4 linked regions of the Homo sapiens genome follow. The protein of the gene in region 1 purifies or fractionates together with the protein of each later gene. This does not show direct contact. Each region holds a gene or a part of one and is shown in the gene's direction. Other genes may lie near its edges.

Evidence for each region. Proteins that work in one complex are often made in the same cells at the same time.
Region 2: the proteins of TMEM185A (region 1) and OSTF1 purify together in Homo sapiens (affinity purification with mass spectrometry; 3 studies listed by BioGRID and IntAct, with this or other methods). This does not show direct contact.
Region 3: the proteins of TMEM185A (region 1) and GPRIN1 purify together in Homo sapiens (affinity purification with mass spectrometry; 3 studies listed by BioGRID and IntAct, with this or other methods). This does not show direct contact.
Region 4: the proteins of TMEM185A (region 1) and CCNYL1 purify together in Homo sapiens (affinity purification with mass spectrometry; 3 studies listed by BioGRID and IntAct, with this or other methods). This does not show direct contact.

What each region holds. Positions count from the first base shown.
Region 1 is NC_000023.11:149,625,293-149,628,792, reverse strand, and holds part of TMEM185A (transmembrane protein 185A), read left to right. Parts: intron 1-3,500.
Region 2 is NC_000009.12:75,126,514-75,130,013, forward strand, and holds part of OSTF1 (osteoclast-stimulating factor 1), read left to right. Parts: intron 1-1,055; coding exon 1,056-1,106; intron 1,107-3,500.
Region 3 is NC_000005.10:176,597,730-176,600,156, reverse strand, and holds part of GPRIN1 (G protein-regulated inducer of neurite outgrowth 1), read left to right. Parts: intron 1-279; 5' UTR 280-322; coding exon 323-2,427. UniProt on the Homo sapiens protein: May be involved in neurite outgrowth.
Region 4 is NC_000002.12:207,746,140-207,749,639, forward strand, and holds part of CCNYL1 (cyclin-Y-like protein 1), read left to right. Parts: intron 1-907; coding exon 908-1,074; intron 1,075-3,500. UniProt on the Homo sapiens protein: Key regulator of Wnt signaling implicated in various biological processes including male fertility, embryonic neurogenesis and cortex development. Activates the cyclin-dependent kinase CDK16, and promotes sperm maturation.

The sequences.
Region 1 (3,500 bases):
GCAGCCATTGCTTTGGAGAGATGGGAGAGAACATGGCACTAAGGCAGAATATGGCTATATTTACTTTGAAGAGCATGTCTTTGTCATAGAAATAGTCACTGTCATGGTTTGGTGGGTCCCAAGGCATGGGTCATGGCTCCAGATCCCCTTTCCAGCCTTTTGGATCTTGGTAAGTCTGAACCCACTGCTGCGTTGGCAAGGCTCTGGAAACTATAGTGACAGAGAATGATTCACAAGTGTCAACACTCAGATGTACAGGGCTGCCAGCTGACCCACTCTACCTATTTCCATCTGGCACTGAACTGGTTGATCATGAACTTCTTTTCATAATTGCTTTTTAGTTATGCAGGTTAAGACATGCCGAAACAGATGTACCGGACCCACAAACAAGTCCTTCCTTGAATGCCTGAGGCTTCCTAACAGTGAAAGAGCCCTGTTCTTAGAGTAGGCAAACTGATTCTGAGGCATTGTAGGTGGTAGGGATCTGGTAGTAGGTAGCATTAGGTGGGCTCCCGGCACTCACCATGGAGCCTTGAAATTTTCTGCTACTTTGGGGGAGTTGCTGGTTCAGAGAAGGCCCTTCCACCCTGGTAGCCATGTGGCACTGGAAGGCTGTGAAAACTCTGCTGGGCCTTCTTAGTCATCTGTTGTGAGCTCCTGATGGGAGTGTGGTGTATCCCTCAGGTGTGCTAGACTGGAACAAAGGCTGAGAAGTGTTGCTCTGGGGGTTCCAACTTGTGGGCATGGGGTACTGATGAGATCAGTAGTGTTTGGAGACTTCTGTATGCTCCATCTTCAGAAGACATTCTGGAGTCCATATAAGTTATCTTGTCTCTTGTTTGAAGCAGGAAAAAGGAATGCGATTGCTGGTAATATAGTTCACTAAAGTCAGCTACCTGGCCTCTAACAGTTATTTGCAAAGTATATTATAACATTGATTCCTCAAACATCTAGATTCCTATCTCGTGCCAAGTGATGTACTAGGTGCTCTAAGTACAAAAATAAAGGAATATAGTCCTCCTCTCAATGCGTAAGCCTAGTGGAAGAAGCAGAAATGAAAGGGAAATAAGAATTCAATAGAGTATGAGGCATTACAGTGAAAGAAACCAAATGTCTTAGAAGTACAAATGGCAGAGCTACTAATTCTGTCTCGAGCAGGCAGGGAAGAGTCTATAGTGGAAATGACTTTTGAGCTAGATTTTGAATTGAGCTAGTCTTTTGAGCCAGACTTTTGAGCTAGAATTGTAGGGTTGTCATCAGACCAGAGAGTAGGAAGGGTACCTTGTGAGGAAGAGAGAGAGAGATCAGATTGTTACTGTGTCTATGTAGAAAAGGAAGACATAAGAAACTCCATTTTGATCTGTACTAAGAAAAATTGTTTCTGCTTTGAGATGCTGTTAACCTGTAACTTTAGTCCCAACCCTGTGCTCACAGAAACCTGTGCTGTAATGAATCAAGGTTTAATGGATTTAGGGCTGTGCAGGATGTACCTTGTTAACAATATGTTTGCAGGCAGTATGCTTGGTAAAAGTCATCGCCATTCTCCATTCTCGATTAACCAGGGACACAGTGCACTGCGGAAGGCCGCAGGGACATCTGCCCAAGAAAGCCTGGGTATTGTCCAAGGTTTCCCCCCACTGAGACAGCCTGAGATATGGCCTTGTGGGAAAGGAAAGACCTTACCACCCCCCAGCCCGACACCCGTAAAGTGTCTGTGCTGAGGAGGAGTAGTGAAAGAGCGGGGCCTCTTTGCAGTTGAGATAAGAGGAAGGCTTCTGTCTCCTGCTCATCCCTGGGAATGGAATGTCTCTGTGTAAAGCTGACCATTCCCATTCGTTCTATTCTGAGATAGGAGAAAACCACCCTGTGGCTGGAGGCGAAGTATGCTGGCAGCAATACTGCTCTGTTACTCTTTGCTACACTGAGTTGTTTGGGTAAAGAGAAACATAAATCTAGCCTGCGTGCACATCCAGGCACAGTACCTTTCCTTGAACTTATTCATGATACAGATTCCTTTGCTCACGTTTCCCTGCTGACCTTCTCCCCACCTGTTGCCCTGCTACACTCCCCTCGCTAAGATAGTAAAAATAATGATCAGTAAATACTGAGGTAACTCAGAGGCTAGCGCTGGTGCGGGTCCTCCGTATGCTGAGTGCCGGTCCCCTGGGCCCACTGTTCTTTCTCTATACTTTGTTTCTGTGTCTTATTTCTTTTCTCAGTCTCGTCCCACCTGACGAGAAATACCCACAGGTGTGGAGGGGCTGGCCCCTTTCAGTATCTCAGAAGGGACAAAGTACACAAAGGCATGGGGTCATGATAGTGCCTGGTATGTTCAGGTAGTGAAGAGGTCCATGTGGTATGAGCACTGCAGATGATATGTGTCGTATGAATTAAAAATACATAGTTACTGCAAATAGTTTTTACAGGTTATTGTTTTTAAGAAAGCAGTATCTAATGCACGAGTGTACTGTCAGTACTGTCAATGAACTACTTACCACTCAAGTGACTGCTTATCTGTTGTTCTGTCCTCTCAAGCCACCTACAGTCAGAAAATGGTCTTGATTTTACTGATGTTGCTGTTAATAATAGCTGTGACTTCTTGAGTACCCACCACATGCCAGGCCCAATGTAGGGGCTTTGCATCCATTATCCATGATCTTTACAACAACCCTGCAAAATTAGGTATCAGCCTTATTTTAAAGTCTTGACAGCTTGTGACTTCCCTGAAGTTGCATAGGCAGGAAGAATCTAAGTCAACATTCGAATCCACGTCAGTCTCATGAAGCCTGTGCTCTTTCCTGCGTGCCATGCCATAGTTCTAGTTAAGTGACAACTCCTTTCCTCCATGACATTGTAGATCCAGTATGCTAAGGAACCCTCTATTTACAAATTGTAAGTGATTAAACAAAACAAACCTGTTAGTGGCGCTTATACATCCAAATGAGTGTTGTTATTCAAAGAGGTTACTTGGGGAAAGAGAATGTATACACCTATTCCATTGTTCATACTCCTTGTTACTCATCTGGAATTCCCTTTAAAGTCAGTTTACATATCACATAAGAAGATCCATCTCATTGCTTTATGATCATCTATCATTTTCAACCAAAATAGTTCCACCTAGTTTGATCACACATCTTATTCACTAACCTTGGCTCTGACTGACTGTTTGCCATTTCCAAAATTTGAATCCACCCTCAGTGAAAATTTAGCACCATTTGGGATAGTCAGAAGATCAGACTGCAGGTTCTCAAGGTGCTTCCAAGAAGAAAGCTTCAAAGATGATTTGAGTAATGAAGTACCATTGGAATTACTGCATTGCCTCCCAAGGGGACTGGTTAAAGGAGAGAAATCTCATTTGAATGTATAATTTCCAGTTTTAAAAGTATCATTCCTATTACTTGATAATTACACACACATTGTTCTTAGCTGTGTTCTTTGAGGGCCAGGATTTGGAGGTGCTGAATTACGTGCTGAATGAGTGGATGTTGGGTACAAATAGA
Region 2 (3,500 bases), on another chromosome or scaffold:
TATCTACTGATGGTCAAAAGATGTTTAAAATGTGTATCTTTATTCAGAAAGTGTTTTTTGGTTGTTTTTGTTTGTTTGTTTGTTTTGTTTTGTTTTTTGAGACGGAGTCTCGCTCTGTCACCCAGGCTGGAGTGCAGTGGCGTGATCTCAGCTCACCGCAACCTCTGCCTCCCGGGTTCAAGAAATTCTCTGCCTCAGCCTCCCGAGTAGCTATGATTACAGGCATCCCCCACCATGCCCAGCTAATTTTTGTATTTTTAGTAGAGATGGGGTTTCACCATCTTGGCCAGGCTGGTCTTGAACTGCTGGCCTTGTGAACCACCTGCCTTGGTCTCCCAAAGTGCTGGGATTACAGGCATGAGCCACCGCACCTGGCCTCAGAAAGTTTTTAGAACATTTGGTTGGTACAGGCCAGAGCACATATGGTCTGTGTAATTAGCCAACTCCTTAGAGCTGCTTGGGGTTTCTGGACTGGCTGAGTTACTGCTTCATATCTTTTAGCTCTTTAGCCTTATTAATGGTTGAATTACATATTAACTTTTCTCATACAGAAAATGTTCATTCTCCCTGAACATGAAGAGCTAGGATAATGATTTTCTTAAAATGAGCAGATAGCAGATGTTGATCTTAAAGTGTTCAAGGATTGAGGCCTTGTTTAAGAGAAAATCAAGCTTCTGGCTGTTTTTCATGACTCTAATTCTAGACATTTATATTTTTATGAAAAAATGTATACCACCTTTTAGAATTTCTACAAGGAAGAAGTTTTATTAATACTCTATTTTGATATACAAATGTCTTGCTTTGGTTGTAGAAGAATGCAAGATGTGTGTGGAGAATCTTTATATATGTAATTCTTTGAAGTTCATCATGGGAAAAAAATCTAGCCGTCTATTCATGTGTTAATTTTTCAGTAGTGTTTTATTATATGGCTTATGTGCTGATTTAAGTGTATAAAACCACATTGCTTATTAGAATATGATAGAATTTTGAATCTATATAATCATATTCTAATTCATGAAAAATCACATGGAGTCAAACTTTTTTTTTTCTTCTAGCCAGATGAATTATACTTTGAGGAAGGTGATATTATCTACATTACTGACATGGTAAGTCCAGATAACATCTTGTAATACCACATATAAAGACTGTTTTATGTAGCTATAACATTGTAAGTTATTTAAATATATATGTACATAGAAATACATATGTACAAGTCTGTTCATTTTAGCACAATTGATAGTAGCATAAGATTGAAAATAGCCCTTATTTCCATCAATAGGGAAAGAGTTGAATAAGCTTTGGTCTAGCCACAAACAGAATATTATGCAGCTGTAGAAAGAAATGGGGAATATCTCTATATGCTATTATGAAGTAATTTAAGTGAAAAAAAAAGCAAAGTGAGAAAATGTAGATAATATATCCTCAGTTTTCTAGGAAAGGGTGAGAGTGTATGTGTACACACACATACATGCAGACACTTGTTTTTCTCAATTTCAGATAAAAAGTTGAAAGATGAGTTGCAAAGTAAAATTTAGTTTTATTCTATGAAGAGTAAAGATCCTTTCTCTAGGTGGAAGGAGAGAAATAGGGTATAATGAACATAGATGGAAGATAGACTTTTTAGAAAATTATACCTTGTTTTGTGGATTTGACTTTGAACTGATGTAAACCTTGACATGGTTAAAAATTGAAGTAAAAAGCAATCCCTAAAAATTAAAAGCAGAATGAATCAAATGAACTTAATTGTACCCTGGTAATTGGCCTAACCACACAGAGAGGAAATATTCCAAGTTTAAAACTCAGCAATTTGACTGAACATCCATAGTAGAATATGGATATGTATGAAAGACATATATATATATATATATATATATATATATATATATATATATATTTTGTCCATATATATATATATTTTGTCCATATATATATATATTTTGTCCATATATATATATATTTTGTCCATATATATATATATATATTTTGTCCATATATATATATATATATTTTGTCCATATATATATATATATATTTTGTCCATATATATATATATATATATATTTTGTCCATATATATATATATATATATATATATTTTGTCCATATATATATATGGACAAAAAGAAATGGCCAAAAAAGGGTAAATTGTTTTAAATCATGCCCTTGTTAGGGAAATGTAGGTATTGCTAATTCTGAGATTGTTGCATGTGTATTGTGGTTTAGAGCAAATGAGTAATTAGGTCGGTGATGTTGCTAACGGATTTTCAGCATAGCAAAAAGGATACACAGATGTAAGATTAATGACAGTTTAAGAAAAACTCTGTATTCCTTCATCTGAATTGCAAGGATCACATTGTATTTTATCTAAAATAAAACAAAAATATTCCCTGCTGTGTTCTTTGAAAGGGCCTAGGAAAAATGACCAACCCAATAATAATATGTTATTTTCCATTGAAATGTACAGGCTTCTTTGAGAAATGGCTGGTACCAAGTCAGGGGCAGCAGAGGTACAAGATAAACCCAGAACATCCTCTTATTAGAAAACATGGAAGCTCCTAAAGACAGTAGGGTCACACTGAAAGGACTTGGGAACGAACTTGAAGAGACTCCCACTGGCCAAAGATAGGACAATTTGAGCATCAATTAGGGCAACAACTTCCAAGAATTGAAACCCATTAAATACATTTAAATTTATGAGTTTCTAATGTTACTTCTGAGGAAATCTCATTGGTCAGCATGAGAGAATGCTAGGAAATCAGGTTTTTATTCTGACAACTGTTAAGGGAAAGAATCACCATTTATTCTGTGTTTTCTTTATGAATTTCTTACCTGGGCAATCTGAGAGCTGATGAGGAAGTTTTTGTTTAAAGAGGTATTCAGGTTATTTCAATGAAGAAGGAATGATAGAATTAGAATGTCACCATCTTGCAGCCTCTAGGAAATAGTGGATCTAGACAATGATCATCAAGGGCTACTAACATTACAAAAAGAAGCCGACTAGATAGTTTGCATTTCCTAATGGAAGAAATCAATACTGCCTAGGAAATAGCCTTGCCAAAAAAAATTGGAGCTGAATCTAATTAAACCTCTAGAACTGATGACCAATTTATAGGCAATACAGGGAACAGAGGAACATGCTTAATGATAACACAGGGATACAACAGGCAAAATCCATAGAGGTTGACACTACAGAACAAACCAACTGGATTCTTCAACAAATACATTGTAAGAGATAAAAAAGAATGGAGAGACAACCTATAGATTAAAAGATACTTAAAGACAAATCAATCATATTGTATAGCCCTTATTTGAGTCCCAAATTATGGGGCAGTTGGGAAATTTGAGTATCGACCTAGATATTTGATGATATTAAGGAATTATTGTTGGAAAAAACTTTTAAGCTGTGATAATGGCATTATAATTGCCTTTCAAAAAGTATGTGTCTTTCAGAGATACGTACTGAAATATTTACAAATGAAATAATATGATGTCTAGAATTTA
Region 3 (2,427 bases), on another chromosome or scaffold:
AAGAGCGAAACTCTGTCTCAAAAAAGAAAAAGAAAAAGAAAGTTAGGCTGTGGCCAAGTTGTGAAGGGCGTTGAATGCCTTGTAAGACGTCTTTATACAGAGGGCCACTGGGAGCAGTGAAGCAGGGGAGTGACATGCTTGGGTTTGTGTTTTTAGTCTAGGTCCTCTGGACAGGTGGGGACCAGATGGGACACAGCACTCAGTGAGGAAGGGGAGAAGGCAGAGTCTCCTCCCCCACTGAGCTTTGGGAAGTCTGAGTCAGCTCTCTCTCTGTTTCAGAACCAGACAGCAGCCTTGGGTGCAGGCGTGGTCATGAGGGCAGATGGACACTGCTGAAGACCCGGCCTGGCTCCAGCTGCTTCAAAAGGATTCCAGCCCCCCAGGACCCCGACCCACAGCCTTCTTCTGCCCACAGGATGGGAGCCTGGGGGCTGGCAGCTCGGCTATGAGGGATTACTGCCCCTCCCAGCAAAAGGCAAGCCCTGCACCCCCCAGGCACACCCCTGACCAAAGCCCAGGCATGGAGTCTAGACACAGAAGCCCCAGTGGGGCTGGGGAAGGGGCCTCCTGCTCTGACGGCCCCAGAGGGAGCCTGGCCTGCCCCTCCCCAACCTGCTTCTCTCCCCAGGAGTCACCCTCCAAGGAGACATTGGAGGCACATGGAGCCTCCATCTCAGGGACACCAGAAGCCACCACGTCTGGGAAGCCAGAGCCTGTGTCCTCCGTGAAAACTGAGCCCAAATCCTCAGATGACAGAAATCCCATGTTCTTAGAGAAGATGGATTTCAAGTCCTCAAAGCAGGCCGATTCCACTTCCATAGGAAAGGAGGATCCTGGGTCCTCACGGAAGGCAGATCCCATGTTTACAGGAAAGGCAGAGCCTGAAATCTTGGGAAAGGGGGATCCTGTGGCTCCTGGAAGGATGGATCCCATGACTGTAAGAAAGGAAGATCTTGGATCCCTGGGAAAAGTAGATCCTTTGTGCTCCAGCAAGACGTATACAGTGTCACCGAGGAAGGAGGATCCTGGGTCTTTGAGAAAGGTGGATCCTGTGTCCTCAGACAAAGTGGACCCTGTATTCCCAAGAAAGGAGGAGCCCAGGTATTCAGGAAAAGAGCATCCTGTGTCCTCAGAAAAGGTCGCTCCTACATCTGCAGAAAAGGTAGATCTTGTATTGTCGGGAAAGAGAGATCCTGGGCCCTCGGGAAAGGCAGATCCCATGCCCTTGGAAAGCATGGATTCTGCGTCCACAGGAAAGACAGAGCCGGGGCTCCTGGGCAAGCTGATTCCAGGCTCATCAGGCAAGAATGGGCCTGTATCCTCTGGGACCGGGGCTCCTGGGTCCTTGGGAAGGCTGGATCCCACATGCTTGGGGATGGCAGATCCCGCATCTGTGGGAAATGTAGAAACTGTGCCTGCCACAAAAGAGGACTCCCGGTTCCTGGGAAAGATGGACCCTGCCTCCTCAGGAGAGGGGCGTCCTGTGTCTGGCCACACGGATACTACGGCTTCAGCAAAGACAGATCTCACATCTTTGAAAAATGTGGATCCCATGTCTTCAGGCAAGGTGGATCCAGTTTCTCTGGGAAAGATGGACCCCATGTGCTCAGGAAAGCCAGAGCTCTTGTCTCCTGGACAGGCAGAGCGTGTGTCTGTGGGAAAGGCAGGAACTGTATCCCCAGGAAAAGAGGACCCGGTGTCCTCCAGAAGGGAGGACCCCATATCTGCTGGAAGTAGAAAGACATCATCTGAAAAAGTGAATCCTGAGTCTTCAGGAAAGACAAACCCTGTGTCTTCAGGTCCAGGCGATCCCAGGTCCTTGGGGACAGCAGGTCCCCCATCTGCAGTAAAGGCTGAGCCAGCGACGGGGGGAAAAGGAGATCCCCTGTCCTCGGAGAAGGCAGGTCTGGTGGCCTCTGGAAAGGCGGCTCCCACAGCCTCAGGGAAGGCCGAGCCCCTCGCGGTGGGCAAGGAGGACCCTGTGAGCAAGGGAAAGGCAGACGCTGGCCCCTCTGGACAAGGGGACTCTGTGTCTATAGGTAAAGTGGTCTCAACTCCAGGAAAAACAGTCCCGGTGCCCTCGGGGAAGGTGGATCCCGTGTCCCTGGGAAAAGCAGAAGCTATCCCAGAGGGAAAAGTGGGTTCTCTGCCTCTAGAGAAGGGGAGTCCTGTTACCACCACAAAGGCGGATCCCAGGGCCTCGGGGAAAGCACAGCCGCAGTCTGGTGGCAAAGCAGAAACAAAGCTCCCTGGGCAAGAGGGCGCTGCAGCACCAGGGGAAGCAGGGGCTGTGTGTTTGAAAAAGGAGACACCACAGGCCTCAGAGAAGGTGGATCCTGGATCCTGCAGAAAAGCAGAGCCCCTTGCCTCAGGGAAGGGAGAGCCTGTGTCCCTGGGGAAAGCCGACTCTGCACCTTCCAGAAAAAC
Region 4 (3,500 bases), on another chromosome or scaffold:
GACATCCTTTTGTCCATCTGTGTTCCTTGTGGAGGCACTGAATACGGGGAATATTTTACAGCCTAAAGACCTGTCATGCTGCTCTGCACAGCAGCCACTGGGTGGCTCTCTTGACCAGCAGTTCTTCAAGCTAGTGCCACAAAAGGGTTAGTTACTGTGAAAAGGAGAAGGTAAAAATGTGCTCAGTATTACTTGGGTTTTACATATTTGAGCATAATATAGCTACCTGTAAAATTACTATCTACCATGCAAGTATGATACATTGTACCTGGTAGGCACTCATTATTTATTGAACAACTCTATTATGGGTGTGGAGGTGATAAGAGTGCCTCTCTTGATGATGCTGTTTGCTGAGATGTCCAGTCATTCCTGTGACTGGGTGGGAAATGTATATGGGCAGAATAGGCAGCAGAGATATCTGACCTACAACTGTGATTTAGTGTCTTGCTTTGGCTGAGTAAGCAAAGTCTCTGTAGAACATAAGAATAAAAGGCACTTATTTTCTGGTCAAAAACAAAAGAAATTTGTCAGTCATGAATTCTTATCAAAGCATTTCGGGGCCGGGCGCGGTGGCTTACGCCTGTAATCCCAACATTTTGGGAGGATCTGGTGGATCACCTGAGATCAGGAGTTCGAGACCAACCTGACCAAAATGGAGAAACCCCGTCTCTACTGAAAATACAAAAATTAGCTGGGCATGGTGGCGCATGCCTGTAATCCCACCTAGTCGGGAGGCCGAGGCAGGAGAATCACTTGAACCTGGGAGGCGGAGGTTCTGTGAGCCGAGATCGCACCATTGCACTACAGCCTGGGCAACAAGAGTGAAACTCCGTCTCAAAAAAAAAAAAAAAGCTTATCAAAGCATTTAAACTGAACTAAAATCAAAGACCAGTGCTCTATTTTACAGGTTTACTTAGAAAGGCTTTTAACTTATGCTGAAATCGACATTTGTCCCACCAACTGGAAAAGGATTGTTCTGGGAGCCATTCTTCTTGCCTCCAAGGTTTGGGACGATCAGGCTGTATGGAATGTGGACTACTGCCAGATCCTCAAGGACATTACAGTTGAGGACATGTGAGTTTGTAAGGTTTTGGTGAACTTTCTAACCATTTTCCAGTATCTTATTCCTATAAAGTTAACAATTTAAGGAATATTTTTAAAGGTTACATTATGCAGATAATGGAAATAGGCATAAGACTATATCTGTCTATCTTTAGTATAACAGTTCACAATAGAGCAAGACTGTCTCAAAAAAAAAAAAACTAACTTCATATTTTCCATCATTACTTGGTAGGTTTTGATGTGTAATAATCTGCTTGATAAATTGAAAAATATTTTTTGGGTGGTTTTTGGCAAAAATCTTACAAGTATACTACCAGAACAACATAGCACAGTAAATATCTTTATTTTATTTTATTTTTTGTTTTGAGACGGAGTCTTGCTCGGTTGCCTAGGCTGGAGTGCAGTGATGCAGTCTCGGCTCACTGCAAGCTCCACCTCCCAGGTTCAAGCGATTCTCCTGCCTCAGCTTCCTGAGTAGCTGGGATTACAGTGGGATTACAGGCATGCGCCACCATGCCTGGCTAATTTTTGTATTTTTAGTAGAGACGAGGTTTCACTGTGTTGGTCAGGCTGGTCTTGAACTCCTGACCTTGTGATTCGCCCGCCTCCGTCTCCCAAAGAGCTGGGATTACAGGCATGAACCACTACGCCTGGCCTCTTTATGGCTTTTAAAAAGTTATCTGCCAGTTCAAGCTCCTTTCTCTTTTTCATTCATTCATTCATTCATTCATTTATATCTTTTCATGTGACCAGTAGGGTATAAACAGCCCTTAAAGGGCATATGTCTGGCCTTTGAAATAATTGTTTGGCCACTATTAGGTCTTAGGGCCTCTGGACTATTGAGAAGTTACGTAGCTTCAACCTGAGTCACACATTGTATATTTGCTTTTGCTAGTCTTTCCACATTTTATCTGAAGGTCTGTTTTTACAGAAGCCTTGAGATATGAAGATCCCTGTGCCCCTGACCCCTCCCCATTAGGAGTGTTTTTTGTATTTAGAAATTGGTCTCCTGAGTTAGGAAGCTCCAGCGTTCCCCTCAGGCGGTCTGAGAAGCACTGCTGGGGCATCATCCAACGCTCACCACACTCGAGAGGCTCCCTGGGCACTCGGACAACCACAGCACCACTTTGGGGGCCTTGAGTTACCTATGAGAGTGCAAGGATCCTTGCTGAGTCATGGAGTTCCTCACAGATGGCACCAATATGACCCTGAAACAGCAGCTTCATCAGGGTTCCTTCCAGGCTGGCCTCGTGTCGGCCGTGAAGGGAAGGGCCTTGGAGCTTGGTAGGCAGGCTGAGCCAGGGAGGCATTTCCAGCAAAGGCTCTCAGGGTGCCCACCAGACAGTGAGAATGGCTTTGTGGGTGGCATTTAGAAAAATATGAAGGAGCACCTCTTGATGATGTTGAGCAGCAGAGGAAGATCAAGGTCATGACAGGCAGTGGCAAGAGTTTGTTTTTATTGCCTTTGCCCATTACTCCATATGACTGTCATTCAGAATTACCATACCATATATTCACAACTGAAGTGAGGATACTTGTGACTAAAAAGGAACCAGTAATTGTGGTAGCTGTTGAAGTGGCTTCTGGTGAAGTTGACCACTTTACTGTTTACCGAACAGCCCTAGTGATATTGCTGGTAGCCGTTTTAGCAAAGGGTGTGACAGCAAATGAATTTGAAACAAATGGAAGTACTTTTGGAAATTGCAGAAACTAAAGTGACTTTGATCACTGCTGTCATCCGTCTGCAAACTGGTTTCTTGAAGGAAGCAAAATTTATTATTATGAACACTTAGCCCTACCATGATGGCAGCTAAAATGTTCTCAAAACCTGCAACTGAACTGACTGGTGCTCTAGTTCAAGATACAGTATCAGAGAACCTGCAGGGAAATGTGCAGGTTTCTACAGATGTAAGCTTCAGGAGCAGTGGTGGCAGGGGCCAGCTCCAAGAAGACCAGTTCTAAATAGTGCTGTTTGTGTATGCCCAGGGAAGCACCAGGAGCTATGCTACAAACAGGCTGCTTTTGTTTATGATCTTTGGAAAGCATTTCAACAAACTGTTTAATATACATTTGTCTCATCCCCCTGCTGTTGACTATTTGTAGTGGTCTCATTTTGAGTCTAAATTGAAACAATTTTAAATTGGTGTCTATCAGGTTTTTCTTAAAAATTTTCAACAGCTACATGTCCTGTTAGAATATATTTCCCTTTAAAAGAATAAGTTAAACTGAGCAGCTGCTATTCAGACGGTTTGCTGTGCCTGTAAAGGGTATGCTATTCAGCCACCTAGCCATTTAAAAAAAAACAAAAAACCTAGAAGATGCATATTCTGTAAGCATAATGCTTTTCTTCAGTGATTAAACCTCTATTAATATGTGTGTTAATCCTATGAAGTACTATATTTCTACACAGTTAAAATGTATTAGTGGAAAAAATATAA